Linked DNA regions of Homo sapiens. The protein of the gene in region 1 purifies or fractionates together with the protein of each later gene. This does not show direct contact. Each region holds a gene or a part of one and is shown on either strand. Other genes may lie near its edges.

The links.
Region 2: the proteins of IPPK (region 1) and RMND1 purify together in Homo sapiens (affinity purification with mass spectrometry; 2 studies listed by BioGRID and IntAct, with this or other methods). This does not show direct contact.
Region 3: the proteins of IPPK (region 1) and SERINC1 purify together in Homo sapiens (affinity purification with mass spectrometry; 2 studies listed by BioGRID and IntAct, with this or other methods). This does not show direct contact.
Region 4: the proteins of IPPK (region 1) and SLC9A1 purify together in Homo sapiens (affinity purification with mass spectrometry; 2 studies listed by BioGRID and IntAct, with this or other methods). This does not show direct contact.
Region 5: the proteins of IPPK (region 1) and RTN2 purify together in Homo sapiens (affinity purification with mass spectrometry; 2 studies listed by BioGRID and IntAct, with this or other methods). This does not show direct contact.
Region 6: the proteins of IPPK (region 1) and MPZL1 purify together in Homo sapiens (affinity purification with mass spectrometry; 2 studies listed by BioGRID and IntAct, with this or other methods). This does not show direct contact.
Region 7: the proteins of IPPK (region 1) and TYRO3 purify together in Homo sapiens (affinity purification with mass spectrometry; 2 studies listed by BioGRID and IntAct, with this or other methods). This does not show direct contact.

Annotation. Positions count from the first base shown.
Region 1 is NC_000009.12:92,631,587-92,636,029, forward strand, and holds part of IPPK (inositol-pentakisphosphate 2-kinase), read right to left. Parts: intron 3,723-4,443; coding exon 3,572-3,722; intron 2,903-3,571; coding exon 2,800-2,902; intron 1-2,799. UniProt on the Homo sapiens protein: Phosphorylates Ins(1,3,4,5,6)P5 at position 2 to form Ins(1,2,3,4,5,6)P6 (InsP6 or phytate). InsP6 is involved in many processes such as mRNA export, non-homologous end-joining, endocytosis, ion channel regulation.
Region 2 is NC_000006.12:151,441,646-151,446,088, forward strand, and holds part of RMND1 (required for meiotic nuclear division protein 1 homolog), read right to left. Parts: intron 4,181-4,443; 5' UTR 4,167-4,180; coding exon 3,663-4,166; intron 1-3,662. UniProt on the Homo sapiens protein: Required for mitochondrial translation, possibly by coordinating the assembly or maintenance of the mitochondrial ribosome.
Region 3 is NC_000006.12:122,451,308-122,454,807, forward strand, and holds part of SERINC1 (serine incorporator 1), read right to left. Parts: intron 2,924-3,500; coding exon 2,844-2,923; intron 2,601-2,843; coding exon 2,463-2,600; intron 751-2,462; coding exon 581-750; intron 448-580; coding exon 357-447; intron 1-356.
Region 4 is NC_000001.11:27,147,979-27,152,421, forward strand, and holds part of SLC9A1 (sodium/hydrogen exchanger 1), read right to left. Parts: intron 1-4,443. UniProt on the Homo sapiens protein: Electroneutral Na(+) /H(+) antiporter that extrudes Na(+) in exchange for external protons driven by the inward sodium ion chemical gradient, protecting cells from acidification that occurs from metabolism.
Region 5 is NC_000019.10:45,493,851-45,498,909, forward strand, and holds the start of RTN2 (reticulon-2), read right to left. Parts: upstream 3,198-5,059; 5' UTR 2,976-3,197; coding exon 2,942-2,975; intron 1,290-2,941; coding exon 1,245-1,289; intron 1,156-1,244; coding exon 676-1,155; intron 571-675; coding exon 316-570; intron 1-315. Other genes in the region: PPM1N (putative protein phosphatase 1N), read left to right, coding at 4,623-5,059. UniProt on the Homo sapiens protein: Inhibits amyloid precursor protein processing, probably by blocking BACE1 activity. Enhances trafficking of the glutamate transporter SLC1A1/EAAC1 from the endoplasmic reticulum to the cell surface.
Region 6 is NC_000001.11:167,766,053-167,770,495, reverse strand, and holds part of MPZL1 (myelin protein zero-like protein 1 isoform a precursor), read right to left. Parts: intron 1-4,443. UniProt on the Homo sapiens protein: Cell surface receptor, which is involved in signal transduction processes. Recruits PTPN11/SHP-2 to the cell membrane and is a putative substrate of PTPN11/SHP-2.
Region 7 is NC_000015.10:41,579,263-41,583,705, reverse strand, and holds the end of TYRO3 (tyrosine-protein kinase receptor TYRO3 isoform 1 precursor), read right to left. Parts: 3' UTR 117-4,443; downstream 1-116. UniProt on the Homo sapiens protein: Receptor tyrosine kinase that transduces signals from the extracellular matrix into the cytoplasm by binding to several ligands including TULP1 or GAS6. Regulates many physiological processes including cell survival, migration and differentiation.

The DNA.
Region 1 (4,443 bases):
TTCAATTACCAGAAGCTAACTTCCTACAAGAGAAAAAGGGCAGGCCCTTCTATGACAGCACGGAAAGACCTCAAGCCACGTTTCTCCCACCAGTAACATCTTGCAAAGCTACAATATCACAGCAAGGTGAGTGATGCTGACACAATCCACAATCTTATTCAGATATCTCGGGTTTTACATATATGCGAGTGTGTATGAGAGTGTGTGTGTGATCACACGTAGGTTCATGCATCCACCACCACAGTCAAGATACAGAACAGTCTGATCACCACAGGGATCCCCTGGTTTGACCTTTTATAACCACATCTACCTCCCTTGTTCCTCCTTGCCAACCCCTGGCAACCACAAATCTTTGCCATTCAAGGATGTTATACACACAGAATCATTCAGTGTGACCTCTGGAGATTGGTTTTCGTCACCAACAAAGCCCCCTGGAGGTCCACCTGGGCTGTTTAGCAAGAGTCTGTTCCTTTTTGGTGCTGAGCAGAGTTCTGTGGTATGAATGCACAGTCTGTCTGACCCGCTGGAGGTCACCGTGGAAAGACATGTGGGTGGTTTCCAGTTTTTAGCTGTTACAAAAAGGGCTGCTGTGAACATTTCTGTACAGGTTTTTTGGTGAGTGTCAGTCTTCATTTCTCTGGGATAAATGCCCAGGAGCACAAGTACAGGGTAATTGCGTGTTTAGTGTGTAGGAACCTTCCAAACTGTTTTCCGGAGTGACTGTGTCATTTTCCATCCCCATCAGCAACAGATGAGAGATCCAGTTTCTCTGCACCTCCATTTGGTGTTGTTTCAGTGTCTTTATTTTAGCCCTTCTGCTAGTTAAGTAATGTCTGCTTTAGCTGCTTACAACACTACATTTACATATCAGGTTAAAAGATTAAAGTAAAATTAAAAAGTAATCCATACTTATTTTGTGGAAAACTGAAAAATACAGAAATACATAAAAAGGAAATAAAGTCCTGTTTCTTCTCTTAGGAAAAAACCCGCCACACTGCTGTTTATACCTAAATCAACGTACCCAACTGGCAGACAGCACGAGGCAGGTGCCACTGCTTTCTTCTCACCCCAGGGCTCCACTTGGAACTCTCCTCACCAGGATGACAACTCTGCCCTGGGCCTCTGCTAACATCCCTGTGGCCCTTTGCGTCAGAGCCTCACCTGAGGCTTTACCAGACATCCTCAGTTCTCCTCAAAACAGACAGCTGCAGCCCCAGTTAAAGAAAGCACTGAGGGCTCTCTCCCAAATGTGAGCCACAGACATGTCAACGGGACAGGGCAAGTGGGTCCCAGGGCTCCAGGCAGCGGTGCATGCACATGTGGGGAGGAGCGCCAGCTCGCTCCAGAACAGGTTTCCTCACTGCTTATTGTCCTGTAAAGGCTTTGGCAGCCTAGTAAAGCCTATGGGCCTCTCTCAGAATAACTTTTTTTTTTTTTTTTATGAGATGGAGTCTCGCTCTGTCGCCCAGGCTAGAATGCAGTGGTGCAATCTTGGCTCACTGCAATCTCTGCCTCCCAGGTTCAAGTGATTCTCCTACCTCAGCCTCCCAAGTAGTTGGGACTACAGACGCCTGCCACCACGCCTGCTTAATTTTTTTGTATTTTCAGTAGAGGTGGGGTTTGACCATGTTAGCCAGGATGGTCTCAATCTCCTGACCTCATAATCCACCCGCCTCAGCCTCCCAAAGTGCTGGGTTTACAGGCGTGAGCCACCACACCCGGCCCAGGATAACATTTTAAAATGTGTAATATAAAATACAGGTGGCAGAAATGTAAAATACCAAAAAAAAAAAAAAATGTTTTTTTGAGACGGGGCTTGCTCTGTCACCCAGGCTGGAGCACAGCGGTATGATCACAGTTCCCCGCAGCCTTGACTGCATCCTCCTACCTCAGCTTCCCAAGTGGCTGGGACTCTAGGCACACGCCACTACGTCCAGCTAATTTTTTAATTTTTCTTTTGTAGAGATGGGCGTCTCACTATGTTGACCAGGTTGGCTTCCAACTTTTGGTTTTAAGTAATTCTCCCACCTCAGCCTCCCAAAGTGCTGAGCCAAAATATTTTTAAAAACAAATGTATTCCGTAGTAATATGTAACATTTAATGCAGTGATGAATAAACCACATCTCAAAGTGTCTGCAGTTACAGTGTGAGACGGAAAGTCTGTTTTTTTATTCTCTTAGTGGCAAACTCCTGGGTCCTGATGAACCCACAGGCTCATTGCCACATTCGTAATGGAAAGAAATGCTAAATTCCAGGTACAGCTTAGTGAAAATGAAGATGCCATTTTTTTCCTATCCAAGCTCATGGAGCCCTGAATTTCACAGACCCAGGAAGTACAGGGCCAGTCCTCTTCCCTAAGAGACTCCTGCAGGCTGTCCCTTGGCCTCGGTTCTAAGGGAAGGAAGCCGCCCGCATACAGCCAGGGGCAGGGCAGAGGCACAGGTGGGGTCCCAGGACCCTGGCAAGGGCCTTGTAGCAAGGGACAGTTGGCAGAGAGCCTGTTGTGGGCTGCTGAGAAGGCATGCAGATGGGTTGCAGATCGGCCGCCCCTGGGGCCTGACCCCACCAGGAACGGGCCAGGGCAGAACTCAACCAAGGGAAATTCCCCTTAAAACCTCAATGCACCACCACCTGCCCCAGTTCATCTGGGAGAAACTTCAGCCACTTCTTTTTGATCCCAAGTTTTCTGCTTTAAACCTCAGGGGTAGGTAATGGAAAAAAAAATACAAAAAACAAAAAAACAGATTAGTGCTAAGAAGCTAAGGATCACACAGCAAGTTTTTGGATGGGTCTGCCCACCTTCGTTAGCGCGAAGGCCACTGTCCCGTCATCCTCAGTGGAAAGGTCAAGCAGCTTCTGGTAAAATGCTTCATCATAAGGCCCATCTATTTGTAAGGTTTTTCTGAAGAAGAAAGCACAATAAAAACAGGATGACAAAGCCGCACGGAGGTTGTTTCTTAAACTGCTAACAGTCTACAAAGCCCAGCACCACTAAACATCACACATTTTGTTTTGAAAAACACATAACAGATCTATCTCCCTCATGTTAAACATCAAGGTTTTTAACAGAACTCAGCAAGACCAGAACCAGCGAGCCTTGAAGCTGAGCCTTCTCCTGTTCATGACAAGTAGCATCCTGCGTCAGAGATGCAAGGAAGACCAGCGAGGAAGGAAGAGGATCCTGGCCCCGACTGGACACCGCGGGTGTGGACCCCAATGACCCGCAGTGAAAGCCCAGGACAGAGGCTGGGCTGACACAGAACGACCTGCAGGAGCGCTGCTCAGCTGTGGAGCAACACTGCCCTCTGCAGGCTCAGCCCCATCTTGGGGTTTCGAATTAGCAAGGTCACAGACGTGCTTTCTTTTCTAGAAACAAGTGACCCTGTTCCTCCTTTACAAGGCACTACATTCCAGAGCAGGCCTGGGCACCTGGGAGCGGAGGACTGGGGTAGGAAGTGGCCGGCATGCTTCATCCTCCTGGGAAGCTGTGCCTTGGGAGGCGCATTCTTACCCTGCCCACTCCCACAGTCTCCTCTCAGGGCTGCCCAACAGGGGGACCGCCCGACCTCACCTCTCCTCGGGAAACTCTTCCAGGTATCGCTCAACCCGGTTGTACAGAGGGTAGAGGCCTTCGATGTCCAGCAGGTCCAACATCTGCACCTGGAGGGTTTTGTACAGAAGACAGCCCTTCGGTAACCCCGAGCGCTCTGGGGTGTTTTTTCCTACCGAGAACATCAGGGGAAAACGAGAGCATGTTGATTATCAAAGAACGTGGAGGGAGACACAGGCCGGCGCAGACCGCAGGGCTCATCCTGGGCTCCGCCATACGGGCATCACCACAGGCAAGGACTGCACCCTGGACTGGCACTAAGGACAGACGAGATGACGCTCCCGCCTCACAGAGCTGCTGGAGCTGCAGCGTGCCTGGACCACACTGGATGCACCAGGCCAAGCACAAAGGAGGGAGCAAGAAATGCACATGTCCTGCCTCGTGGCTCTCCTCTCCCAACACAACTCTCAGAATGTCCTTTAGATTCCACCACAACAGCCCTGGAAGTCACTTTATGATCTAAGTTTAGACATAATCCTCATTTTAAGTCAGGTCACAAAATTTCTTCTTTTTCTTTTCTTTTTTTTTTTTGAGACAGAGTCTTGCTCTCTGTGGCCCAGCCTGGAGTGCAGTGGCGTGATCTCGACTCATTGCAACTGCAAGGCAAGGAATTTCTAAGATCCTGCTGACATCCTAAATCTGCAAGACCACTAAAGGAGGAAAACCCTGGGACACTGTCTGCAGAGTCCAGAGCCATGAGCCCACACTGAGAGGCAGGTAAGACCTGGGCTGGCGACAGGCACGAGCTCAGAACCAGCCACACAGAGCCACAGACAGGGGTCAAAGCCACTGACAAGGACCTGTTATATCATAGGGACAGAGGCAGAAACAAA
Region 2 (4,443 bases), on another chromosome or scaffold:
AGATGATGGGGTCTGGAGAACTCCTGGGTTGATCAATGCATCCATGTGCCAGGAGGGTGGCACAGCCCAGTTCTATGAGGAACAGAAGCTCCTAAGTTCCAGGCCCTTCTTGACTTCACTCTGTGCACCTCTACATCTGGTTGTTCATTTGCATACTTTATATAAAAAACCCAGTAAACATAAATAAAATGATTCCCTGAGTTCTGTGGGCCATTCTAGCAAATAATCAAACCTGAAGAGGGGATGGTTGTCATAGAGCTGGTTGGTCAGAAGCACAGGTGTCAACTGGGAGGGCAGTCTTGTGGGGCTGAGCTTAACTAACTGGCGTCTGCACTAACTCTGGCTAGTGCTGGAATTGAACTGAATTGCAGGACACCTTGTTAGTGTCTGGAGAATTGGAGAACTGGCTGGTAGGAGGAGGAAGAGGTCCCCATATATTTGATGTCAGAAGTACTGTGAGTAGATAGATCATACTAAGGAAAAATGCCTTTTCTCCTGTAACATACTGATTGGAGATTAAAGCTATAAAAACACAGATACATTTTACGTTACCAAGATCACGCTTTATCCTGTAAGTTTTTCTGACTACAACCTATAAATCATTAAACATAGTACATATACACATATATGCTTACACACCAATTGCCACAAAAGCTTCACAAACCAGTATTTACGTTTATCATGAGCAATGTATTCTGTTATTTTCTATTCTATTTCATTTTTCAAAAAAATGGTTAACAGTCCACCAGTGATTCTGTAACACAGTGCTATTAGCCTGAAAACATTCTCCCTGGTGTCGGGCTCCATGCCACTCAGACCTGCCGTTCCCATCCTCTGCTGTTCTCTTCAAAGACTGGACATTAACAAGAAGCACTGCTATTATTGTTTTCTTGTTTGTTTAGTGACAGGGCCTCACTCTGTCGCCCAGGCTGGACGGAGCGAGGTGCAGTCACGACTCACTGCAGCCTGGAACCCTGGAGCTCAAGCGATCCTCCCACCTCAGCCTCTTGAGTAGCTAGGACTACAGCTGCGCACCAGCAAGCCCGGCTTTTTTTTTTTTTTTTTTCCAAGTCTTTTAGAAATGGGAGTCTTGCTATGTTGCCAGGCTGGTCTTCAACTCCTGGCCTCAAGTGGTCTTTCTGTGTCAGCCTCCCAAAGCACTGAAATTATAGGCATAAGCCACTGGATCCACTATTGCTTTTAGGAATTGTAAGCCAAAGGGATGTGGGTTGAGTATCTCAGATTATGATCTCTGAAAATGAGACCAGGTAAAGATTTAATTCCAACAGACAGGGTGACTGAAACCTCATTCAGCCAACTCCAGATGCACGCTGTTCTGCAGAGCTGAAAAGATGAGCTGGGTGCAACTATGGGAACAAAATAAAGTCCACATGCTTTCTGACACAAAGCAGAGTCTTTTCCTTGTCTCAGTCAAGAATGGTATAAAGGGTTTACCATTTTGATGGTATAAAGTGGTATAAAGGGTTTACCACTATGATGGCCGTATAAAAATGGAGTGGCCCTCAATTTCGGGCAGAGGAAAGTCAGTCTTTGGTCCTGGGGACATATTACCTAGTCATGCCAAGACTGCTTTCTCTATGAAAAGTAAAATCTTCAAAAAATGATGTTCCAAAATTACATTATCTCAGACCACTTTAGAAACATGATTTTCTTCTCTTTTTTTGAGACAGAGTCTCACTCTGTCACCCAGGCTGGAGTGCAGTGGCATGATCTCAGCTCACTGCAACCTCCACCTCCCGAGTTCAAGAGATTCTCCTGCCTCAGCCTCCCGAGCCGCTGGGATTACAGGTGTGCACCACTACGCCTGGCTAATTTTTGTATATTTGTAGAGACAGGGTTTCACCATATTGGCTAGGCTGGTCTCGAACTCCTGACCTCAAGTAATCGCCTGCCTGGGCCTCCCAAAGTGTTGGGATTACAGCTGTGAGCCACCGCCCAGCCAGAAACATCTGATTTTCTATTATTTCCCTGTGCTTTCAGAAAGACAGCATGCGACTTGCTCTTGCCAAACTCCAACTGAAGTCATTGTCTATCATGTTACATAATGTCTCCTATAACAGAATCCATGAAATAACTAACTCCTTAATTTCAGTGCTGGAAAAAGTTATTTCTCTGAAGATATTTTTATGTTTTTACTCTGCCCTCTCCCACAACAATAAACAACAAACACTAAATCCCAGGAGGAGTTCCTCTTTTAATTACTGCGCTTCTCAAAACAAAATGTTCAACTAGATTATTCATTTCAGGTACTTCATAACATTTCTCTGTTCATGTCAACTATTTGCTCTAATATGTGAAAGTATTTATTATCTCATTTGAAACTATGTTGAATGTTGAAAATCTACTTCAAATTCTTTCCTGGAAGGAAGTAGAAAAAAAAATCTAAAGAAAAATAGATACGGTATTTAGGAAAATTGCTTCCAAGTCTAAGGATGGCCCAAAGAAATAGCCTAGGGACATCTCTGACCTATCAGCTTCTTCCTAAGAAACCTGATGCACTGTGCTGCTAGACGTTACAAATGAACAAAGTGAGTTGAGCTTTCTCTTTTTTGGAGCTGCCATGAATTCAGGTTTTTACACTTAATGCCATCTCGGACACTTAAATACTGAATTTCCCAGGTTACCCCAAAGCTCCAGCAAAAGGAAAGGGGAAACAGTAGCTGCACAACACTTCATCCTTCACGTCCTGAGTTCAGAGTAACCACACAAGAATTGAAAGCATTCCAGAATCCAACACAAAAACCATTCATTCATTGCTAGATTCAGAATCAGAGGATGAGTAAAGGTATGTATGTATACCTTTCCAAGGGGTGTCAGCTGCACAGTAATAAAAACACAGCCAAAATGAAACAGGCTCAGGGGCTACTTTTCAGAATCAAGACTTGAAGACAGACATTCTAACCTGTTTTCTGATAGATTCAGAAGTCTTCATCAAGTTTAAAATATCTTTAAAGTTGATGACTATCGGCATTAAAGATCCTCTTATAAACATTTAAGTACAAGGTACAGTTCTAGGTATTATGCAAGATACAAAGGTTATCAAGGGCTTGATCTTGACCCTTAAGTTGTTACTGAAGGAGAAATGCAAATTGTAGCAGAAAAATTCCCAGAAACCCCTTAAGGATGAATAAAAAATACCCCCTTAAACCTTAAGAGGATAAAAAAGCTGGGCCCTCCTCTCCTGCTGCTTTTGGAGTCCACCCTACCGTGTCATTTCACCGCCCCATGCAACTGCCACAGCCTAATAAAGGCTTATCTGTCTGCAGAGTTACAATTTTTTTTAACTTGATGAAGAATTTCTAGTTTGTTTTTTTTTATTTTATTTTTTTTTACAGTCCCATTCTTAGACTGGACTTAATATTGGTCCTCTTTTTCAGTTTCCTTAGACCAATAACCAAATCTTTTATAAACTCTATTTTCATGTGTTATCACCTGTATTTTGTTTTTATATGTATCATTAATTGTTAAAAATTAAGATTCTGAATCCCTTTGGATATTTATTAGGCTTCAAAGACCTTGATGAAGAAGTCTGAGTGACTGCTAGTTCTCTTACGTTGGCGGTAAGGCTGGGGTGCAACGCACACTGGTTTAGCATGAGCAATGATCACTAAGCACGAGAGCCACGGCCACCCCTACTTTACCTCGTTCACAGACAGAACTGGAAGGTTGGTCCTGGATGGCTGTCTGGTCCTGGATGCTTTTAGTGGTCTCTTCACCTGTGGGAAGTCTTGTTTTGGAACAAATGTTTCCGTTGATACAGATGAGAAATGCCTCTTTAATATTTTTATAAACCATTTAGAACCCAACAGATTTGGTTTGTGGGTCACTCTCCTGTGAGTACCAAAGGATTTCATGGTTGGAAGGTGTGCCTTTTCATCTTGGCAACGAGCAGCATTTAATGGAGACAGCATGCTGGTATCTGACTTTTTTTGGTTCATTTCCAGGATCTGAGACTTATTCAAACCACTAGCTGTTTTATCAGGAAGGAACAAATCCAAGCTTTGACGTATTGTCAGTGTGCTGCATGTTGTATTTTCAAATTCCTTAAGTGGTTTTAACATTAGATGACCGATTCTTCGGCACTGATGTGCTTTTGATAATATATGATGAGATCTGGCCACGGCTCTGAGGAGTGTGGCTGGCATTACCACATCCCAAGCTAAAAGAAAAGGAATTCAAAGTTCAAGTTTTTAAATTAATGTTTAAAACATATATAATATTTCCCTAGGTAGCAGGCATATTTCTGTTAGAAAAATTTGTAAAACAGATACATTCTAAGTTAATTCTAGTAAAAGAACAAGGTTAAAAATATAAGTACAGTGTTTCTGCCACTTTGCCTTTAGCAACATTTGGCCTTCTTCCTGGAAGATTACAAGATTATAAAGCTACTGACATAACAAGAACCTTAAAAAAAATAGTGAT
Region 3 (3,500 bases), on another chromosome or scaffold:
AATGTACATTGTTTTTCTAGACATAATGCTATGGCACACAACAGACTAGTGTAAGATAAACAAAAGTTTTATATGCACTGGGAAACCAAAAAATCATGCTTTACTGTGATGCTTGTTTCATTGTGGTGCTCTGAAACTGAACTCACAGTTTCTCTTAGGTATACATGTAACCTTCTTATAATTTTGTTAGTGATGGAAGAAACTAAGTGAAATAAATAATACATCAAAGATCAAAACTTTGTACTTTATTCCTCTAGAAGCCTAATTTTTAAGTAATTTAATCTCACAAAAAGACAATTTCTGGAAAAACAACAACTGCAGAACCTTTAGGAACATGTAATATAAATAAAACACACCTGGTTCATTGGTCATAGCTGACCATGTCAAATACATTGTGTAGACTGTAATTACTGAAGACTGTAACAAACCAGATCTTGGTTGTGATTCCTACAAAAAAAAAAAAAAAAAAATATATATATATATATATAGCAACACAGGTAAATAGTCTGACATCATTCTAGATTTTTGAAAACTTAAAAAGGTATAAGCTTCATAAAAACTAATGCTTTAAAGGGCATACTTGGATTTTTGGCAGTATAGACATTACAGAAGCACCAACGCAGAGGAGCATGTTGACACTGATGAACGCCTTGTTTTCTGAACAACTGGCTGGATGAGTGTAGTAGACAAAGAACAGGACGATAGCAACTAAAGACAGCAGATAATTCAGAGCTGTAGCTGATAACAAGGCTGTGAAAGAAATATAATTGGATAATTAGCTTTTTATCAGAAATTATTAGCAATTAGAAATGGGACCTGTTTTATAAACAATCTGTCATTTTGTCAAAAAATATATTTTAAGCAACTAACATTGTCAGCATTATAAAGGCTATAAAAGCAGGAAAGAAAATTAATTCTGACCTTTATTGCTGAAGAATTCTAGTTTTTACACATAGCTATTATGTATTTGCAAGGATGGCAAGTTAGTAAGAAACTAATAGGATTTAATACTAATATCTATATTAGAGTTTACAAACTATGTTTACATGTTAGCCATTATTTTCAAAATAAAGAAAAATAACTATAAGAGGAATATTACTTAAGGTTTTTAAAGAACCATTATCACTCAGTTGTAAACAAGGGCATTAAGAAAATTATTTTCATTATTAATGTTAAGCCCTCACAACAATGATGCTTTTCCTCATGAACTAAAATCTTAAAAGATACATATTATGCAAGGGTAAGTCATTATTTAATAAGTCAACCTATGCTTTTTCTATGTAAATTTCAACATACACAAGTTGTTTAGCCTTTATGCTAATATGTGCCTAATATACAAGTATTTATGTAGATTTGCCTCGCTGACAGGGGATCCATCCAACAAATATTTATTGAATGCCTGCATTCCAGGCCCTGGGGATACAGCAGGGAACAAAAGACACAGAAACCCTTGCATTAGACTTTGCATTTAGAGAACAAGGTATTCAATGTAAGTGAAATTTCCAAATGACTAAAGCTTATTTCTTTGAGCACCAAATTATTTTAACTTGAACCACTGAGATAAAACACCACAAATTAGTTGTGTGAGAGGAATATTAGGCCAGCAGACACACTGGATTTGGCTTGCACTCCAATTTAAAATTTTTTTAGCTGAAACTCAGTCATTTAGCATGAAAATCCAGATTTATGACTTCTTTTGAAAAACATTAGAAAAATCAAGCAATACTAAGTTCACATTCCCACAAGGCAACTAATAAATGGAGCTGAGCAGTAGTAATGCACTTTAGATGGGGCATTCATACTCTCCAATTCATTGTAGTCTATTTGCACAAAGCTTATGCACTTAAACTCTGTCCTCCTGTTCCCTCATTTTTGTTACCTGGTTTGGCCCTGTAAGCATTTGAATTGGGATATCTGTTTTCAAGTATAACCCCAAAGGACTCAACATCATCATTATAAATAATCATTAATTACATTACTATAGGAATTCCTTTAGTTGTTATTGATGCACATAAAAGCATCCTTTGCACTTGAATAAAACATCCGAGTTGCTTTTTATATTTTTTATTTGCTGCTGTTTATGAATTGTATCACTGTGTGTTTATCTATTCCTAGCAATCCTCTTCCCTTTAATATTTTGCTTTTAACCCATTGTAGGCTAGAAAATTAGGCTATAAAGTGCACATGCTTTCAGTAATATGCTTTGGAACATTTATTTTAGCTATTCAGGTTCTTTTGGATTCTTTCCTGGTTCTTGGGTTATGTTCCCAGTTAATCTGCTAAAAGATCTGCTCACCAAGTTGCTGATACAATGTGATATTTTGACACTCACAAAGTTTAAATTAAAAACCTCATCATAGGAAAGTAGACCATAAAAATCCTAAGTGATTTACCTAGTCTACATATCTATTCTCGACTTCAAAGTTCAACTATACTGAAGTTGTTCTGCGACGAAAGCTTACCTGCATACCAACATCTCGAGTTCCCTTCTTCCATTTTTTCAACCCACGATTCATTCCATGAATGTGCAAAATCAATAAGTAAGACTAGTTGTATGAGGATGAAACAAAAGGCACCTGCCATGCCTACATAAAACCACACTGAAAGGGAAAGAAAGCATACATAAGTGATTGGTTAGTTTGATTTTTATCATTTCCTTTCAAAATCACAGTACACAAAAAGGAAAATAAAATTTTATATGAACATCTTGATTTTGCCAACTGGGGAAACACACACACACACACCCCCAAACAAAAAGACAAACAATTATAGTTCCAGGTGACAATTATTTCAGATTCCTTTATAAAATATCAATGTCAAACAACTTAAAAAGGATTTCTTACCAGTTGTAAAAGTTCCTTCTGGAATGAAGAATGCCCCAATAATAATTGCAATTGCTGCAGCAAATTTAAAGAACCAAAATCTAAAACAAAAAGAAATATAATTTTTTATTAATAGACATTCATCAAATAATTTCATATATGAAATCATTTAACTGCATCTTAACAAATAGCTACACTTTATGTGAATGTTCTACTTCTTTCTGAGGATATTATGATCTGGAGTGTAGCCATATTTGTAACTACAAAACAAGGTAATCATCATATTTAGATAACATAGTTTGGAGAGAGAGTGAAATTAACCATTACCATGAACCCAAGCTTATATTATAGATCTTTCCAATTGGAAAAAACAAAGCAAAAAAAATCTGATAAGAAAGGCAAGTCAACATGTGAAAGGAATGGATTAAAGCCCAGACCACGCTAGAGGAAGCATCAGAGCAAATGGCTGGAAAAGAAAGGGAAATGATAAGACATTTTGGGGACTACTGGACACTGGCTCTGAGCTGACATTGATTCCAGGGGACCCAAAACAACATTGTGGTCCCCCAGTTAAAGTAGGCGCTTATGGAGATCATTGGGTCACTCCACCAGGAAAAAAACCACGACCTGCTGAGTTGCTTGCTGAAGGCAAAGGGAATACACAATGGGTAGCAGAAG
Region 4 (4,443 bases), on another chromosome or scaffold:
AGCGAAACTCTTGTATCAAAAAAAAAAAGAAAAAAGAAAACAGGGGCTCAGAGAGGTTATGCCTTGCCTAAAGTCACACAGCTGGGCAACAGAGAGCTGAGACTAGATCTCAGGTATCTTAACCTTTCACCCCATCCTACATGTTTTCCATTGTAATCATTTCTCTGCCTCTCCTTTTCTCTCCCAGAGGGCATGCAACATTCTGGGGGAAAGGACAAGTCCTCCATTTCAAAGATTTGCTGCTCCACAGATAAGGGCTATGAGAATGTCAGTCCCCAGTGCAACTCTGGCCCTCATCCTCCTTCATGCAAATACAGGTATGTTCAAGTTGTAGAAAAGAACTTGGAGCTGAGCCAAAGCTGTCAAGGCTCCAGACCACCCAGACCCTTTAGCCCTTCCTGCCTACAGGAGGAACAGGTGTCCCTCCTGACAACAATCCAGGTTACCAATGTGGATGTGTCTGGTCATTGACTCTCCTCAAAGCCCCTTTAAATCTCTCATCCCCCTTGATCCAACAAGAACCCAGCATGTTGGCCTGGCAGGAGAGAGTTTGGCCTTGAGTGATTAGTCCCAGGCATGCTAAGTGACCTCAGGCAGGTCACAACCGAAGGCTCAATTTCCTTAGATGTAAAATGATGAACACATCAATACCACATGCTATTCTAACCCACAGGACCACTGAGAAGATCTAAATTAAATATTGTACACACAAGTGCTTTGGAAACAAATTTCAGTGCTAATGAGAAGTACTATTAAACTCCTCCTGCCTTGTAGAGCTAAACAAAGTTGTGCCACCTGCTCCCAACAGAGGCTGCCTCTCAGGGGACTCTGCTGGGCCCTGAGGGTAACCAAAAGCAGCCTGTCACCTTTCTGCTCAGAGGCGGGAGGTCATAAGGTCAGCCACCCCTTGTGGCTAAAGGAGACCACCCTTTACCTGGCACTTCCCTGCCCAAGCAGGGAAGAAGCAAGCTCTGGTCTGATGGCTGAGAGGGCACCGGAAGAGAGATAGCAGGCAGGGTTGCTAGCAGAGAACAAGGGATAGGCCTCCTGAATGCAGGATTCAGGTGCATCCAAGAAGACTCACAAAAACAAAGGACAGGTGCACAGCTGGACACAGAACACCTACAGCTTTCTCAAGGCAGGGACAGGGCTCCCACCAACGACATGTGCCCAACTCCTAGAGGGAGTCCTACAATTCCTGAGTGCAGGTGCAGTGAGCTGGGCGCTTCTCAGTGCAGGGCCATGTGCATCTGCTGCGGGAATGCCAGAGGCAGGAGATGCAGCTGCACCCCTCTAGCAGGCTATGCCAAGACTCGAACAGACAATAAATAGCAATTTGACATCACTGAAGATAACCTCTCTGAGCCATTTCCTCATCTGCAAAACAGAGACAGCTTTTATCTCATGTGATTTGAGTAGGGATTAAATAAGATTGCTTTTATAAAGTGCCTGACACTACTCTGTAGATACTAAGTGGCAACTATTATTAAAACACACACACCCGTTCAACACAGGAGATGTCACAGGGCAGGCAAGGCCTAATGCCACTGTTATGGATAAACAATAAGGGAAAAGGGTTTGGGAGAGAAAGAGAAAGTGACTGCTGTGGGCTGGGAAGACCTCCCAAAAGGGGAAGAATCTGCACGGCCCTGAAAGTTACTACAGTGAGCTGGGCACTCTACCAGGCATTCCCACGTTCAGCCTCTACGTTGGTCTTAAGGATGAGGCAAGTCAGGTTCAGAGAATGAGGTGCATGAACCTCAAGGTTCATGGTCACACAGGTACTGAGAGGCAGCATCAGGAGCAGAACCCAGGGCTTCTGACTACGTCTTTCCTTTGTACCAGGGCTGGACGCCATGGGGCTGGCTTGGAAGGAGAGGAAAGGCAAACTTCGAGGGTGCTCAGCTGAATGAAGTCTGGGCAATCTGACCAACTAAGCCCTCTAAGTGCCTTGGCACTCCTAGAGACACATGTCCTACCTGAAGCCTTCCTCCCAGTCCCCAGCTGACCTCCCTCCCACTGTTCTGCAGTCAGTCTGCTATTTTCCCAAAGAGAAAAAGGTCATCGCTTCCTTTTTAGAGTCCTATCTGGGCTTCTTGAGACAGTTTCAAGGTGACCTTTAGGCTATTTGTTCTTCTCTTCTTTTGAGAAGTGAGAGAGGCACCTTCTAGTGTCATTTTTATAGGAAACCAGTTGCTGGGTCTGATATCCATGCATGTGAAGTGGGCAGTGACCCCATCTCCCCTATTCACAGACTTAATCTACAGAGGAGATGGCAGGATTCGCCTTGCAAAGACCAAAACCAAAAAAAGCTATAAGATATAAAGGGACAAAAGAAGCCTTTTGTGTCCCTGGTCAGGAGACAAGATGAATACCTGCTTTATGGGCTCCCGGGCCTCTGCCAGGCATTCTGGGTCAGGAACATGGGTAAACAATTGCAGGAGATGCCAGTGGTGAGCTGAGTTACAGTGAGGCTCTCCTCTGGAATAAGTACTAGCCTGGGAGTCAGGTGAACATGGAACAAAGCAGAGTTCATGCGGGGTCCACAGCACAATGTGGGGTGGGGAATGCACCTAACTCCTAAGGCTTGGAGTCATTCCCACAGTTTTCCCAATAGCCTAAATCCTCTTCACACCACTGGCCCCTCCCCACCAAGGACAAGCAAGAATTCCTGACTGCTGGGGAGAGAAAAAAGGTCCAGAGAGGGAAGGTGACTTACCTAATGTCACCCACTGAGTCAGAGGTAGACTAGAACCCAGAAGCAACTATTCTAGAACTTCAGCTCCCACCCTGCTCCTCCCACCCCAGTCTCTGCAAGAGTCTACCCGAGGCTCTGCTCCATGGTTAGGGTAGGAAGGAGAACTGCAAAGCACTTTCTATTCTTATAGGAGGGGTAACCTGCAAGGGAAGCAGCTGCCATAGATGACAGAATGAGGGCTCCAACGGAACTCCTACCCACGCAGGGGTGTTGAGAGAATAGGCAAGACCCCAAAATCAGCTCCCAGGCTCTTGGGTATCTGAGAGTGCAGAGGGAGCATGGCCTCAGCCCCCCACCCTTATCCCTACAAGGCAGCTGGTGTCATCTTCCCTCCCGCCATGACCAGCTCAAGTGAACAGTATAGGACACATGGAAACCCTGATACCCTAAGGAAGGACATTGGTGGCAGCCTAGGTTTGAGAGATTTGTAATCCTTCAGCTCAGAGGAAGGTTGTAGGAGGCTGAGGTAGGGATGCATTTGCTGTAGGTGGTTAAAATATTAACAGGGGCAGCTGTCACTCATTGAACACTTCCTGTGTATACAAACTTTTATGTGCATTTATTTATGTAATAATCACATTAATAGCACTATAACTGGATACTATTAGTTCCCATTTTATTTTTTTTTATTTATTTATTTAGAGACGGAATTTCACTCTTGTTGCCCAGGCTGGAGTGCAATGGCGCAATCTTGGCTCACTGCAACCTCCGCCTCCTGGGTTCAAGCGATCCTCCTGCCTTGGCCTCCAGAGTAGCTGGGATTACAGGCAGCCGCCACCATGCCCAGCTAATTTTTTGTATTTTTAGTAGAGACGGGGTTTCACCATGTTGGCCAGGCTGGTATCAAAACTCCTGACTTCAGGCGATCCACCCTGCCTCAGCCTCCCAAAGTGCTGGGATTACAGGCGTGAGCCACTGCGCCCAGCTTAGTTCCCCTTTTATACATGAGGAAACTGAGGCTCAGAGATGCTGCTAAGTGGCAGAGTGGTGGCTGAATTCCACACTGCAAAGGTGAAGCTGGGAAAAATGGGCTTTCATTTTTGAGGCCTGAACAGGGACTCTTCAGATCTTTAGACCACCTTTCTCTCCACTCATGGCCAGATGCTAGAACTCCTGTTTTCAGAGGCAGAAAAATGCCTTTCCAAGGCAGAAACAGACTTTTGGAAAGGAGACCACATCCAGCCTCATCATTTTACAATGGGAAAACTGAGGTCCAAGGCTGAGTGACTTGCCAGAGTTTCCAGAGTCAGTGGAATGACAGAAATATCACACCTGGAAGGGACCACAAAGATCAACTGATGGGTAGGGAGGCGTGACTGGTCCAAGGACAGAGGGAGGTAGGAAGAGAAGCCAGGTTTTCCTGACTTCTAGACTGATATTGTTGCCATGACACCATCTCTGCTCTCCAGCTGCCCAGGGTCCCGGGCACAGCACTTGGGTGGTGACAAAGCAGGCCAGGCCAAGCTGACCTCATTAGCACTAGAGATACCAGGCCTGCAGGGACAAACTTCTGACTGCCTAGAGTGGGGTCTCTGCAGTCATGCTGTCATCCCACCAGCAGCCACTGACACTCAAAGTGTGTCTGCCAGCCCTGAATGCCCTAATGTAATGCCAGGTGTGGTGGGCAGGTGAGGGGATCGGGGACAGGAGGCAATTTATAGATTGCACTTGTGAGGTCTCCTCCT
Region 5 (5,059 bases), on another chromosome or scaffold:
CTCCTGCCTCAGCCTCCCGAGTACAGACGGGGTTTCACCATGTTGGCCAGGCTGATCTCGAACTCCTCACCTCAAGTGATCCGCCCGCCTCGGCCTCCCAAAGGGCTGGGATTACAGGCATGAGCCACCGCGCCCGGCCGGGGAAATTTTTTTAAAAAGCGGAGTTTATCACGTCTAGCCAGATGTGATATCACGTCTATCTCTTCCCTTTTCCACTATGTACTGTTCCTTTGCGAGGTTGGTCCCTTTAATTCAAAATCCTCTCACCTTTTGCCTTCTGTGGGCCAATGCAGCATCTTCATACACGTTGCTTACCTAGAAGGCGTGGCTCCACCGTGAATTCTAATTGGTCCGTGCTATCGAGGCACTGTCCCCTTACTGGCTCTCGCTCCAGTGGCCCCCACTGCTTTTCTTCCTCTTCCAGCAATGGCTCTTCGGGCCCAGAGTTCGAATCTCGCGATCGGGATGGGGACGGAGTACCGGCCTGGGGTGTCCCAGAGCCCGGACTGAGCTGGGGAGTCAAGACCTCGGGCGATGAGGGCTGAGCAAGTCGGAGTCGTAGGTCCAGTTCTGATACGGTAGAGAGAGGAGGCCGTGAGCTTTCTTCTTGGAGGTGCCCCAAGGAGAAACCACCCACCCCTCTTGGCTTTGGTCCCAGCACCTCGGACATCTCACCTTCCCCAGCTTCTCCTGTCTCCAATCTGTTGGGTTCTTGGGGTTCTTCGTCTTCCAGCGGGGTGGAGCTGCTGGTGGAAGAGTCCTCCCCGGATCCCGTTCCCCGGGCCACCCAGCCCAGATGGTCCAACCGAAGCCTCAGGTCTTCCAGAGGGCGCTCGGATGGAGGCGCGGTGTCAGGATCACCCCGTCGTCCAGGCTCCGGGGATTGGCTCAGGCTGGGGATGCTCTCCAAGCTGTCGCCCAGGCTGGGCTGAGGGTGCTGGTCTCGTGGTTCCGAGACTGAGCGGCCCTGGGGGCGGGGGCGGCGGGCAGTTGAATCCCTGCGGCCCCCGGAGCCCACTACACCATCAAAGGCGATGTAGGAGAAGGTCAGCTCCCGGGGGGTGCCCCAGTCCTGCGACGTGGTCTCCTCCTCGTCCTCCTCTGAGAATTCCCGGGCTGTGTGCAGCTCTCGAAAATCAGAGTCGTCGTTCCCTCCTGCAGTGGGTGAAGGAGAGCCTTGTTTCCCTCAGCAGGTCCCTGAGCTGCCCAGCCCTGAGCCCCTTCACATGCTCCCCACCACTTACCTTCTGTGGAATCAGGAGTTGAGGAGGCTGTAGACGGAGCTTCTTCTGCGAGAGGGAAAGAATCGAAGACTCTTAGAAGCTTAGACTGTCCGAATCACAGAAGTGTCCCAGTCCTGGAATCTTAGAATATTTGAATCACGGGATTTTTAGAACATTCTGCACACAGACTCTAAAACCTAGCATCACTGCCTGATGAAGCTCAGAGTCTTTGAAGTCCAAATCCAGGAATCTTAATCTTAGAGTCTTCAAAGTAGGAATCTTAGGAGGTTTCAATTCATTCATTCGTTCAACAACCACTTATTGAGCACCTACTATGTGCCAGGCACTGTTCTAGGTCCTGGGGATACAGCTGTGAAGAAAACAGACAAAATCCCTGCCCTCCTAGAGCTGACACTCTTTGGGATAGACAAACAATAAACAAGTGAATATATGACGTCGGGTGCAGATGAGCATAGGGAGCAAAGTAAAGAAGGGTAGGGGAAGAGAAAGTGAAGGGGTGCTGTTTCTCATAGGGTGGTCAAGAAGGCTTCTCTGATAAGATGACGTTTGAGCAGAGATCTGAAGGAAGTGAGGAAGCCATGCAGATGTTCAGGGACGTCTTCCAGGTAGAGAAGAAAGCCAGTGCAAAGGCCCTGAGCCAGGCACCATGCTTGGCATCTGAGGAACTGAGAGGTGCGAAGATATGACTGGAGAAGAGTGACTGAGGAGGAGAGGAGTGGGAGGTGAGAACAGAGAGGTAAGGGCGGTGGGGAGAGACAGACGAGGTGGTCCTCCCTTTGTAATCTGAAGTTAACGACAAGATCATAGAATGTTGGGATGATACTCGAAAATGCTGAAATCACCAATTCTTAGAATTTTGGCATCTGGACACGCGAGACATGGAAATGGCTAGATCTAAGGGTGTTGAAATCCCCAGCTGTCAGAACCCCCATGTGTGGGACAGAGAACGGTAGACATGGACTGTTATAGCTGTGAGCTCAGAGATTGTGAGGCTAGGCGTTTTCAGCTGGGAATCCAGCCCCTTAGAGCTAGTTCAGAGCTTTGCACATAGATGATGCTCAATGCGGTTTGGAAATTGAAATCTGACGCCCTGTGCCCTCACCTCGTTTCCTCAGCTGGGGAATAGGAGGCCTGGAATGGTGTGGGTCTTCCCCAGGATTACCATTAACCAGTGGTAAAGACCGCTAAGAACCCATGAGTCCTTGCCCCCAAACCACGGATGGCTGTTTTCCCGGGACAGGGTTGGACAGTTTGGGCGAGGTCGGGGCTGCCTCTTGGACAGAAAACGGGGATGGGATGCGAAGGCAAGTGATTGGGAGCCAGACCCCTGTTTTCCATCCTGGCTCTACCCTCCGTTCAACCCCCTCCCCGCCAGCTGCGGCCAGCACCAGAGCCAGGGGACAGCTCCCCGCGCGCGTCCTCGCTCCCGGGCGGGGCCGGGCGGTACGTCCCAGAGCGCAGCGCGCCCCCCGCCTGCTGTCTCAGTGCCCCCTCACCTCCGCCCTGTTTCGTCCAGGTCCTCCGGGTCAGGCTACCCCCGTCGCCGCCAGAGCGCGGGGGAGGGGAGAGCTTCCTTTGTCTCCTATGCCTCCTCCCCCCATCCCGGCTCTCCTGCGGGCAAGCGCCGAGGGGACACCGGGGAGTACCCCACCTGAACCTCTGGGGCCCACACCAGGCCCCAGTCTTCCTCTACTCACTGCAGTGGGCGAAGACCGGCAGGACCTGCCCCATGGCCCCCCTCGGGCCTGCATCGGGACCCCCGCCCACTCCGGCTGTGCCGCCCTGGGCCCGGGGTCGCGGGCGCTCATCTCCGCCGCGCCCACGACGCCGCTGCCATTCTCGCCGCCTCCTCCTCCCGGGCTGCTCCAGCCGCCGCCGCCGCCGCCGCCGCCGCCGCCGCCCTGGTGCTCGGCTCGGCGGGGGCGGGCGGGGCCGAGGTGGGGAAGGCACTGCAGCGCGCGGCCGGGGGCGGGGCCAGAAGACGGGCGGGGCGGTACCAGAGGGAGGGTGAGGGGCGGGGAAACGCCGAGGATCAGGCGGAGGGGCGTGGCCTTCTTACTAAAGGGGCGGAACCAAGAGGGTGGGCTACGGAGCCAGGAAGGAGGGGAAAGCGGCCTGAAGGGCGGGGCCTAGATCGCAGAGGGCGCAGCCTTTAGGGGAAGAGGGAAGGAGGCCTGGAGTCTGGCGAGGGACTTGGGAGAGGATGGTGAACGAGCCACGGCAGAGAGGATGAGAGCGTGGATCCCTGGGTGGGTTGGGGTGGTGCTCGGGGTGCCATTGAGGAGGGGGTGGAAAGATTCTAATGCTCTGAGGTAGGGTCCGAGCCTAGATTTGCAGAGGGAGCGAGAAAGGGGGCCGAATGAAACGATTCAGAAACTTTTGGGGCACGCGGAGGAGCTCAAACGTGGGCAGGGCTAAAGCAACAGGGAATTATTCAAATATAACTGGGTGGGGTCGGATTCCAGGCGATTCCAGGTCTGCGAAAATTAGAAGGGTCTGGAGCTGTGTGCCTGAATCCTGGATGGGCGGGGCCTGGAAGAGAAAATAAGCGAAGCCCCAGAGGGGAGGGGTCGAACTAAAAACAGTAAAGAAAAAAAAAATATGTATATATATATATATATATATATATATATATATATATATATATCTTTTTGAGACAGGGTCTCGCTCTGTTGCCCAGGCTGGAGTGCAGTGATACGATCACGGCTCACTGCAGCCTCGACCTCCCGGGCTCAGGTGATCCTCCCACCTAAGCCTCCTGAGTAGCTGGGATCACAGGTGTGTTCCACCGCGCCTGGCTAAATGTTAATTTTTGTAGAGACGGGGTCTCGCTATGTTTCCCAGGCTGGTCTCAAACTCCTGGGCTTAAGCGATCCGCCTGCCTCGGCCTCCCTAAGTGCTGGGGTTATAGGCGTGAGCCACCGCGCCCGGCCAAGTATGGTATTTACAGGTTTTGAGGCTGGGGGCTGTACCACTGAGGTGGGAGGAGCTTGGACTGAGTGTTGTGTTGAGAACACAGATTCTAGAATTAGTTTCCCTGGAACACCGGTTACTTCTGTGACTCTGTTTCTTCTTCCATATGTAAACTGGAGATGATGATGTATAACAGTGTGTGACACATTAGTACTATGTAATAGTTTGCCACTGGTACAGTATTATCTTTTTTCTTTTTTTTTCCTGATTCAGATCCCAAACCCCGCTTTGTAGGTGCAGGAAACAGGAGACCCAGAAGTGTAATTCCTTCTAGTGACCCGCCTAAAGAGCAGGTCAAAGGACAGGAAGGAGATTTAGATGGTTTAAAATCTCACAGCGGAGGGGATTAATGGAGGGGGCGGGCAGGTGTACAGGGTGGAGCCTTCCTGATCCCAGGGCTGAAGGATGGCGGTCCTGGCCCGCCAGCTGCAGCGTCTCCTCTGGACCGCTTGCAAGAAAAAGGAGAGGGAGAAGGAGGGGAGGGAGGAAGAGGAGGAGGAGGAGGCGGGGCGCAGGGCCCCCGAAGGGCCTCGGTCTCTGTTGACAGCGCCGCGCCGCGCCCAGCGGCCGCACGGGGGTGCCGAGGCGTCTGGGGGCCTGCGCTTCGGGGCGAGCGCAGCGCAAGGCTGGCGCGCGCGCATGGAGGATGCTCACTGCACTTGGCTTTCGTTACCTGGTCTGCCCCCGGGCTGGGCCTTGTTTGCCGTCCTCGACGGCCACGGTGGGGCTCGAGCTGCCCGCTTCGGTGCACGCCATTTGCCAGGCCATGTGCTCCAGGAGCTGGGCCCGGAGCCTAGCGAGCCCGAGGGCGTGCGCGAGGCGCTGCGCCGAGCCTTCTTGAG
Region 6 (4,443 bases), on another chromosome or scaffold:
GAAAGTTCAGCCTTTAGCCCCTTTCTCTTTCCACTCCTCAGTCTCTCCTCAGTCCTGCTTTCAGCAAAGGAACTGTCTTCTCAAAGTAAACCTTGTCAAACTCAGCACCTGGAAGCAGGGTTAAGGCCCAGTGGGAGGGGATCTATCCTCACACTTGGCTCTAATCCAAGCAGCTATGCTGGAGGCCTGATGTCTTTGTTCTGGTTAATGGACGGGGTGATGGTGGAGCTGGGGATAGAAACCAGCTCTATTAGCAATTCAAACAGAACATTTTCAGAACCCTTTGAGCACGGTGAAAACCCCAGTGCAGACTCATCCATTCCTATGATTTAATGATCATCTAGATTTTCTTAACTCCCAAACCTCTCTCTCCATCAATAGCGTCCCCTAAGCTCTAGACTCCTTGCCTACTCACTTTACCACCTGGCTGCCCCTCTCCCCCAAGCTTGTCACCCTCTCTTACAAACTTCATCTTCCCCTCTTCATGTATCGTGTCTTCACTGATGGCTACTGTTTCTTTCCAAAACCATAAATCTTGAAGTCATCCTTGATTCTCTTTCTTCCTATCCAGTTAATCCCCCAATATTGTCAATGTCTCATTAGTTTCTCTCAGTTCTCTCTTCTCTCTATTCGGTTCCCACTGACAATATCTGTTTTTATGTTTTCATCATCTTGGACTATGGCCTCTTAACTGGTATGTCTAACTCATCATCTTCCACAATGCCTAAATGATCACTGATAAAGAATAATGGTTATTATTATAACATTTATCAAATATTTACCCTGCATTTCATATGACCTAAATGCTTGTTAAGAACCGTGAAGGGTCTGAGATTTTACCCTACTTACAAGCTAACAAAGTTAGTTGGCCACAGGTTCATAGGTGCTGACAGAAGACACGGACTCCTGTGAAATCTTCACTCCCATGAAGAAGACTCAGAAACAAAGAACCTTATGAGCAGAAAGCATGTGTTTGTTTCTCTTGCCCCGCAAGTCCCATAGCCATGACATGGAGGGGCTCACATGGATGTTGTGCAGGCAGAGGCGTTGCATCACAGCCGAGGAACCCCAAGCTCAGGGAACACTATTCTCTTACAAGGGGCAGAAGACATGTCTGACTTCAGCCCTGAAAGGAGACACTACCTTTACTATACTCAAGAATACACAAATTTGTCCTTTGCTCCAGAGGGTAACATCATCTCTGCCTTCCAAAGCTAGTTACTGTATAAAAAAAGTCCAGAACAAAGGCAGCCAGTGCCTTTGCTAGCAAGGTGTGCAAAAACGTGAAAGACCCATAGAAAACTGTCTCCCAACAACTCTCTAGCCCTCACAACCACCCTGCAAGGTGAGATTCGCCTACCTGATATTTCATAAATAGGGAATGTGAGGCTCAGGAAACCTTGGTGACTTTCCCAAAGTCACAGGTTTTAGAGATGGAATTCAAACTCAGCTCTGATTTCAAAGCTTATGCTATTTCCAATGTTTAAGGCCTCTCAGGTGAGATCATGTCTTATCTGTTCAAAGTTCTTCACTCTCTCTTCTTCACTAGAAAATGAACCATAAACTCTCAGCTTTGCAAATGAATCCTTCCATCACCTGCTCTCTGCCTTCCCTTCCCACAACATCTCCACATATTCCCTGCCTTGCATTTCTGAACCAGCGGGGATGAGCTACATGATGCTGTTTCTCAGCACTGGGTCTGAGACAGCTCCCTCAGTCAGGCTCCCTCATTGAATGGGGGCCATTTGAAGGCAGAGGATAAGATGTATTTATCTCTGTACTCCTTAGCACTTTGGACACAGCAGGAACTACATAGTTTGCTGAATCAAACTGAGGAATAACGTCTTGGTCAAACCAGTGAGAGATGGAAATAAAACAGTGAAAAATTCACAGAAAAGACTAGAATCATTATCAATCAATATTTTTAAAGTACAAGCCATGGTGCTAAAGCTATGAGGTATACTAAAGATGTAAGACAGGCAAGTCCTCTTAAAACACCCATATTCAGGAAGAAGAGGAAAACTGTCATATTAAGGGATCTGTATTATAGGAATGGCCCAGATAAGGGTAGTGAGTTTTAAGGGCTAAAAGGTTAAAAAAAAAAAAAGAGGCATTATGGAGGAGACAGAGGGTAAAAATGGGGTACAGCTTAAATGACAAGTGTTCAGAAGTAGGAAAACAAAGCACAAAGCATTTTTACTAAACTGGAAGTGATGCCATAAGAGAACAGAAGTGAGGCTAAAGTGGTAGGCTGGGCCAAATTGTAATGAGCTTTTAATTCTAGACAAATGTTGTCCACAATGGGAATCTAGGTTCCTGATAACCTGCAGTGGCAAGGTGAAAGAGCTGTTCTAAGACTATGCACCTGCTGGCATATGAGGGTTGGATTGAAAGATGAGAAAAACAGAAGCAGAAGAATAACAAGGGGCTACTGCACAAGACCAGGCACACAGTTAACATTGCTCAATAGACAGCAGAGACACAGGAAGGCTGACAAAAAGCTAGACACCAGAAACAAAGTAGGAAGAACCAGCAAAGGTTCTTATTTCTTGGGGGCAGAAGGGAAGTGGTAAGGGACAGGGAAGGAAAGGACAGAAAACACAAAACAAAACAAAACAAAACAAAACAAAACAAAACAAAATGATTACAAAACTCATCTGCAGATGAACACAATTAACCTAAAAAAAAAAAAAAAAAAAAAAAGCAGAAAAGGGAAACAGAAGGGAGAAAAAATGAGTTCAGTTTCAGACATGTGGATCCCAAGGCCATGGGCCAAAAAAGCCATCCACAGTATGGCTTTTGAATATACTGGGTTTGAATATACTTTTCCTGTAAAACCTATAAAAACAAAAAAGCAACCCACTCATCTTATTAAATGTGTCCCGACATTTTGGAATTAAAGGATCCTATGTCAATAACTGAACATGCTGGGATTAACTGCAATCAGACTCGTGTGTAAGTATAAATTGATTAGCTAAAAATATTAATCAGAATTACAGCATGTTCTTAATATTAAGTTTTGAGTTATGTAAACCTTCATGGACCTACACGACAAGACTGTTTCCAGCATAAATGGAACCGCTCTTTAAAAGAAAGTTATTACCTCTGGGTGGCTCTCACACCCACTCTTGCAGAAGACTTCAGTGGGAAATCTTTAAATGTTTAAATAGTTCTTTGGACTCTCTTGAGTAAACTTATGTGTTTAATCTTGCCTCTATGGGAACATTAGTGTATGTTCTATGCTGATGCCATATTTACGTGAAGCAGAGAATGCCTCTTTATGTCTTTCCATGGTATCTGTATGGATTCCTGTGCTCACCCTTATGGCTACTGTAAGGGAAGGCCTCTCTTATAAAGACCTCTAGACTATGCATTCTCCATAGGGGAGATTCTCCCCCAAGGGAGCAAACACTGGCTCTTGGGTGGGAAGCTTTGAGAAAATCTTTCTCTTTTATATGTAAAACAGTTGCAGAGGATATCTACAATATTAAAATTTCATGGAAGGGGGCAGAGATTAAGAAAAATGTGAAAAGGCTCCTTTTAAAAATAAATTTTAAAAAATACTGAGAAGCACTGCCTTAGGTAATCCCTAAAACCTATGAGGCCGTAAATATTATTAGCAGATTTTTCTACCTGAGAGAGAAATAATACATAAGGGAAATCATACCGTATTGAAGTTTAAACAATTCTAACCTGTGTGGTATGGCCACAGGTGAATAACTCTTGAGTCAGTGTCTCCCATCCTCCCCACCCTGTCTTCCTCATAGAGCTGTGAAGATTAAATGGCATAGGCATATGATGGGCCCAACATCTAGGTGGTGATCAACAATGTAACTCACCATTCAGAAGAAGAATTGGGCATTCTTAAAGATAGATGACAGACTGTCCTTGCTAAACACTGACAACCTGAAACATGCAACAGTACTAAAATATGTGCCAATATATGAAGGGCATTCCACATGCTGGGAGAGCAACAGTAACAACAAATGGTGTATTTTAGTAACTCAAGAGCTAGACACTCTCCTGAGCACTTATCTTGAATAATCTTACTTTATCCTCCTAACACCCTTGTGTGGGAGGTTTTATCGTCTCCATTTTACAGACCAGAACCAAGATAGTCAGTTCATGTTTAATAACCAGCACTCCACTAGTTACTAAATAACCTTTTTTCAATGCTCTGGTGCTGTATTTCTGTTACATCCTTTATCTTACTCCAAAGTCATCTATATATCAGCCTTCCTCCTAATCATCTCTAGGTGAGAGCAAGGATTCTGTTTTAGACATTTTTGAAGGCCCTACATAACCCACTACATAGTAAGCTCCCAAATCAATATTGCTAAATCAGATGGACTATACGCTAAATTAAAAAAAGATAATCAAATCAGAAGATGCATACATATATATATAAAATTTGATAATACATAAAACAAATATCAATAAATA
Region 7 (4,443 bases), on another chromosome or scaffold:
TGAACAAATCATTCTTCTCTAAAGCCTTGGGAGACCTGTATTCCTTTCATGCCATGCCTTGACATAGTGTTCCTCAGACCTTGGGAGAACGTTGCAAAAAAAATGTACCACGAACATATAGGAAAACATTATACATTTATAGTAATTCAATTAGTGTAGCAGTGACACTGGCACATGTAATTGGGATGAACAGTCTAGCAACCAAAATAGATATGGGAGTTTAGATAGATCAATGAGGCTATATAGAGAAATGGAGACAGATTATTCAAGAAATTCTGGCTGGGTGTGGTGGCTCACACCTGTAATCTCCGCACTTTGAGAGGCCAAGGTGGGCAGATCGCTTCAGCCCAGAGTTCAAGACCAGCCTGGGCAACAAAGCAAGACTCCATCTCTACAACACTTAAAAACTGGGCCGGGCGCGGTGGCTGAAGCCTGTAATCCCAGCACTTTGGGAGGCTGAGGCGGGCAGATCACGAGGTCAGGAGATCGAGACCATCCTGGCTAACATGGTGAAACCCTGTCTCTACTAAAAATACAAAAAATTAGCATGTTGTGGTGGCACGTGCCTGTAGTCCCAGCTAATTGGGAGTGTGAGGCAGGAGGAGACTCGCTTGAACTGAGAGGCGGAGGTTGCAGTGAGCCGAGATCACACCACTGCACTCCAGCCTGGGCGACAGAGCAAGGCTCTGTATTAAAAAAAAAAAAAAACACTTAAAAATTTGCCAGGTGCAGTGGCGTGTGCCTGTGGTCCCAGCTATTCAGGACGCTGAGGTGGGAGAATCAGTTTACTATCACTTTACTCCAGCCCAGGCAGAAACAGAGCAAGACCCTGTATCAAAAAAAAGAAAAAAAAAAGAAATGTGCATAAAATATAGATTGTTCAATAAATGGTGGTATTGGGACAATAAAAAGTATCTGGGAAAAATAACTTTGAATCTCTGTATCACTTCTTATTCAACAATAAATTTGAGATAAATCAACATGAAATACTGAAAAATAAACTATATTATTATTATTTTCTTTTTTGAGATGGAGTCTCACTCTTGTCCAGGCTGGAGTGCCATGGCACAATCTCGTCTCACAGCAACTTCCACCTCCCAGGTTCAAGCAATTCTCCTACCTCAGCCTCCCAAGTAGCTGGGATTACAGGCACCCACCAGCACGCCCAGCTAATTTTTTTTTTTTCCGAGATGGAGTCTCACTCTCTCACCCAAGCTGGAATGTAGTGGCTCACTGCAACCTCCCCCTCCCAGGTTCAAGTGATTCTCCTGCCTCAGCCTCCCGAGTAGCTAGGATTACACGTGCCTGCCACCATACCTGGCTAATTTTGTGTATTTTTAGTAAAGACAGGGTTTAGTAAAGACAGGGTTTCACCCTGTTAGCCAGGCTGGTCTCAAACTCCTGACCTTGTGATCCGCCCGCCTCGGCCTCCCAAAGCGCTGGGATTACGGGTGTGAGCCACCATGCCCGGCCATTCTTGCCTCTTTGAGACTCACTTTTCAAAACTGCTGTTGTTAGATGATCCTTATAAACATGTTGCTGAGGGAAAGAAGCCAAACGCAAAGTAATCAAATCTACATGACTCCATTTATATACTTTTAAAAGGAGCTTCACTGATCCATGGTGTTAAGAGGTCAGGATAGAGGTTACCTATGGGGAGTAGGGAGGAGGCAGAGATTGAGGCAGGTCCCAAGGGTTGCTTCTGGGTTGCTGTTAATGCTGTTTCTTAATCTGGATGCTGGTTCTTTGGATCTGTTTGTGAAAATCCTTTTTGATCCAGAGTCTCTCTCTTTTTTTTTTTGAGACAGAAAATCCCAAAGCGCTGGGATTATAGGCGTGAGCCACCATGCCTGGCCTCTTTTTTTTTTTTTTTTTTTTGAGATGGAGTCTCGCTCTGTCACCCAGGCTGGAGTGCACTGGTGCCATCTCAGTTCACTGCAACCTCCGCCTCCAGGGTTCAAGTGATTCTCCTGCCTTAGCCTCCCAAGTAGCTGGGATTACAGGTGCCTGCCACCACTCCTGGCTAGTTTTTGTATTTTTTAGTAGAGATGGGGTTTCACCATGTTGGCCAGGCTGGTCTTGAACCCCTGACCTCAGGTGATCCACCCGCCTCAGCCTCACAAAGTGCTGGGATTACAGGCATCAGCCACCGCCCCCAACCGATAGTGAAGGTCTTTTCAATCAATAATTCCCAGATGTTATCTCACAGGTAATCACTACCTGCAGTGAAAGCTAATCACAGCAGGAAAGATTCTGAAAGCTACTTGCCTGGAAGTTTTTCAGGTTTCATGATCTACATGGGAACCAGAATTTGGAGTACCAGCAACAGGTTTTTCAGGATATTTGCTTTCAGAAGCAGCCACCCTATTCCCCTGCCCTCAGCCAGAAGCAGCACAATACCTGTGGGCCCTCCCAGTCTCCCCACACTCCTCACTAGCACATGTGTGGTTCCTGCGCCTCCTGCTGCATCTCCCATGAACTTGCTCTAAAAGCTTTTTTGTTGTTTTGTTTTGTTTCTGAGACAGTCTTAATCTGTCACCCAGGCCGAAGTTTAGTGGCAAGATCTCAGCTTACTGCAACCTCCTCCTCCCAGGTTTAAGTGATTCTCATGCCTCAGTCACCCAGTAGCTGAGATGACAAACCTGCGCCACCAAGCCTGGCTAAACTTTTTTGAATTTTTAGTTGAGATGGGGTTTCATGTTGCCCAGGCTGGTCTCGAACTCCCGGCCTGAAGTGATCCACCCGCCTCAGCCTCCCAAAGTGCTGGGATTACAAGCTGGGTATGGTGTCTCACCCCTGTTATCACAGCACTTTGGGAGGCTAAGGCAGGCAGATCACTTGAAATCAGGAGTTCGAGACCAGCCTGGCCAACATGGCGAAACCCTGTCTCTACAAAAAAATACAAAAAATAGCCGGACACAGTGGCTCGTGCCTGTAGTCCCAACTACTCGGGAAGCCAAGACAAGAGACTTGATTAAACCTGGGAGACAGAGGTTACAGTGAGCCGAGATCACACCACTGCACTCTAGCCTGGGCGACAGAGAGAGACTCGAGACTCCGTCTCAAAAAAAAAAAAAAATACACGCCACTGTGCCCAGCTGAATATTTGCATTTTCAAAAGATCAATGGTGATTATCTCTAGGTGGTGGGAGTATAGGTAACTGGCACCTTTTATTATTTTTTGCATTTTTATTTTTATTTTATTTTTGAGATGGAGTCTCGCCTGTCACCTAGGCTGCCGGGATCTCGACTCACTGCAACCTCCGCCTCCTGAGTTCAAGCAATTCTCCTGCCTCAGTGTCCTGAGTAGCTGGGATTACAGACACGCGCCACCATGCCCAGCTAATTTTTGTATTTTTAGTAAAGACGGGGTGTCACCATGTTGGTCAGACTAGTCTTGAACTTCTGACCTCGTGATCCACACACCCAGGTCTCCCAAAGTGCTGGGATTACAGGCGTGAGCCACTGCGCCCAGCCGATTTTTTGCATTTTTCTAACTGCCCACGGTGACTCTGTATTATCTTCAGTATAATAAGATTCATTGGGATCCTGTATCTAATTACAAAAGCATTTTGTGCTCAATGCAGAAAACTTGGAAAGCACAAAGAAGAACGTCCCCTTAACCCCATCATTTAAAGGTAACAGCTGTTGCCAGGTGCGGTGGCTCACGCCTGTAATCCCAACACTTTGGGAGGCTGAGGCAGGCGGATCACGAGGTCAGGAGATTGAGATCATCCTGGCTAATACGGTGAAACCCTATCTCTACTAAAAATACAAAAAATTAGCCGGGCGTGGTGGCAGGCACCTGTAGTCCCAGCTACTCGGGAGGCTGAGGCAGGAGAATGGCGTGAACCTGGGAGGCAGAGCTTGCAGTGAGCTCAGATCGCGCAATTGCACTCCAGCCTGGGCGACAGAGTGAGACTCGGTCTCAAAAAAAAAAAAAAAAAGATAACAGCTGTTAACATTTTGGCATATGTCTTTCCAGACTTTTCTCTCTATAAAAATCTTTCATCTTTGTGATCTCAAAAAAAGTAAACATTTAAGAGACAAAGCTGGGGCCAGGTGTGGTGGCTCAGGACTGTAATCCCAGCACTTTGGGAGGCCAAGGCAGGCAGATCACTTGAGGTCATGAGTTCAAGACCACCCTGGCCAACATGGCGAAACCACATCTCTACTAAAAATACAAAAATTACCTGGGCATGGTAGTGAGCCCCTGTAATCCCAGCTACTCTGGTGACTGAGGCACAAGAATCGCTTGAACCCAGGAGGCAGAGGTTGCAGTGAACCAAGATCACACCATGCACTCCAGCCTGGGCAACACAGTGAGACTGTCTCAAAAAAAAAGAAAAAAAAAAAGAGACAAAACCTTAGGTCTTTAGTCTTCAATTTTATTTCTATTTTAAACAGCAACTAACAGCTTGGAAATGTCCCTAACAGCTAGGA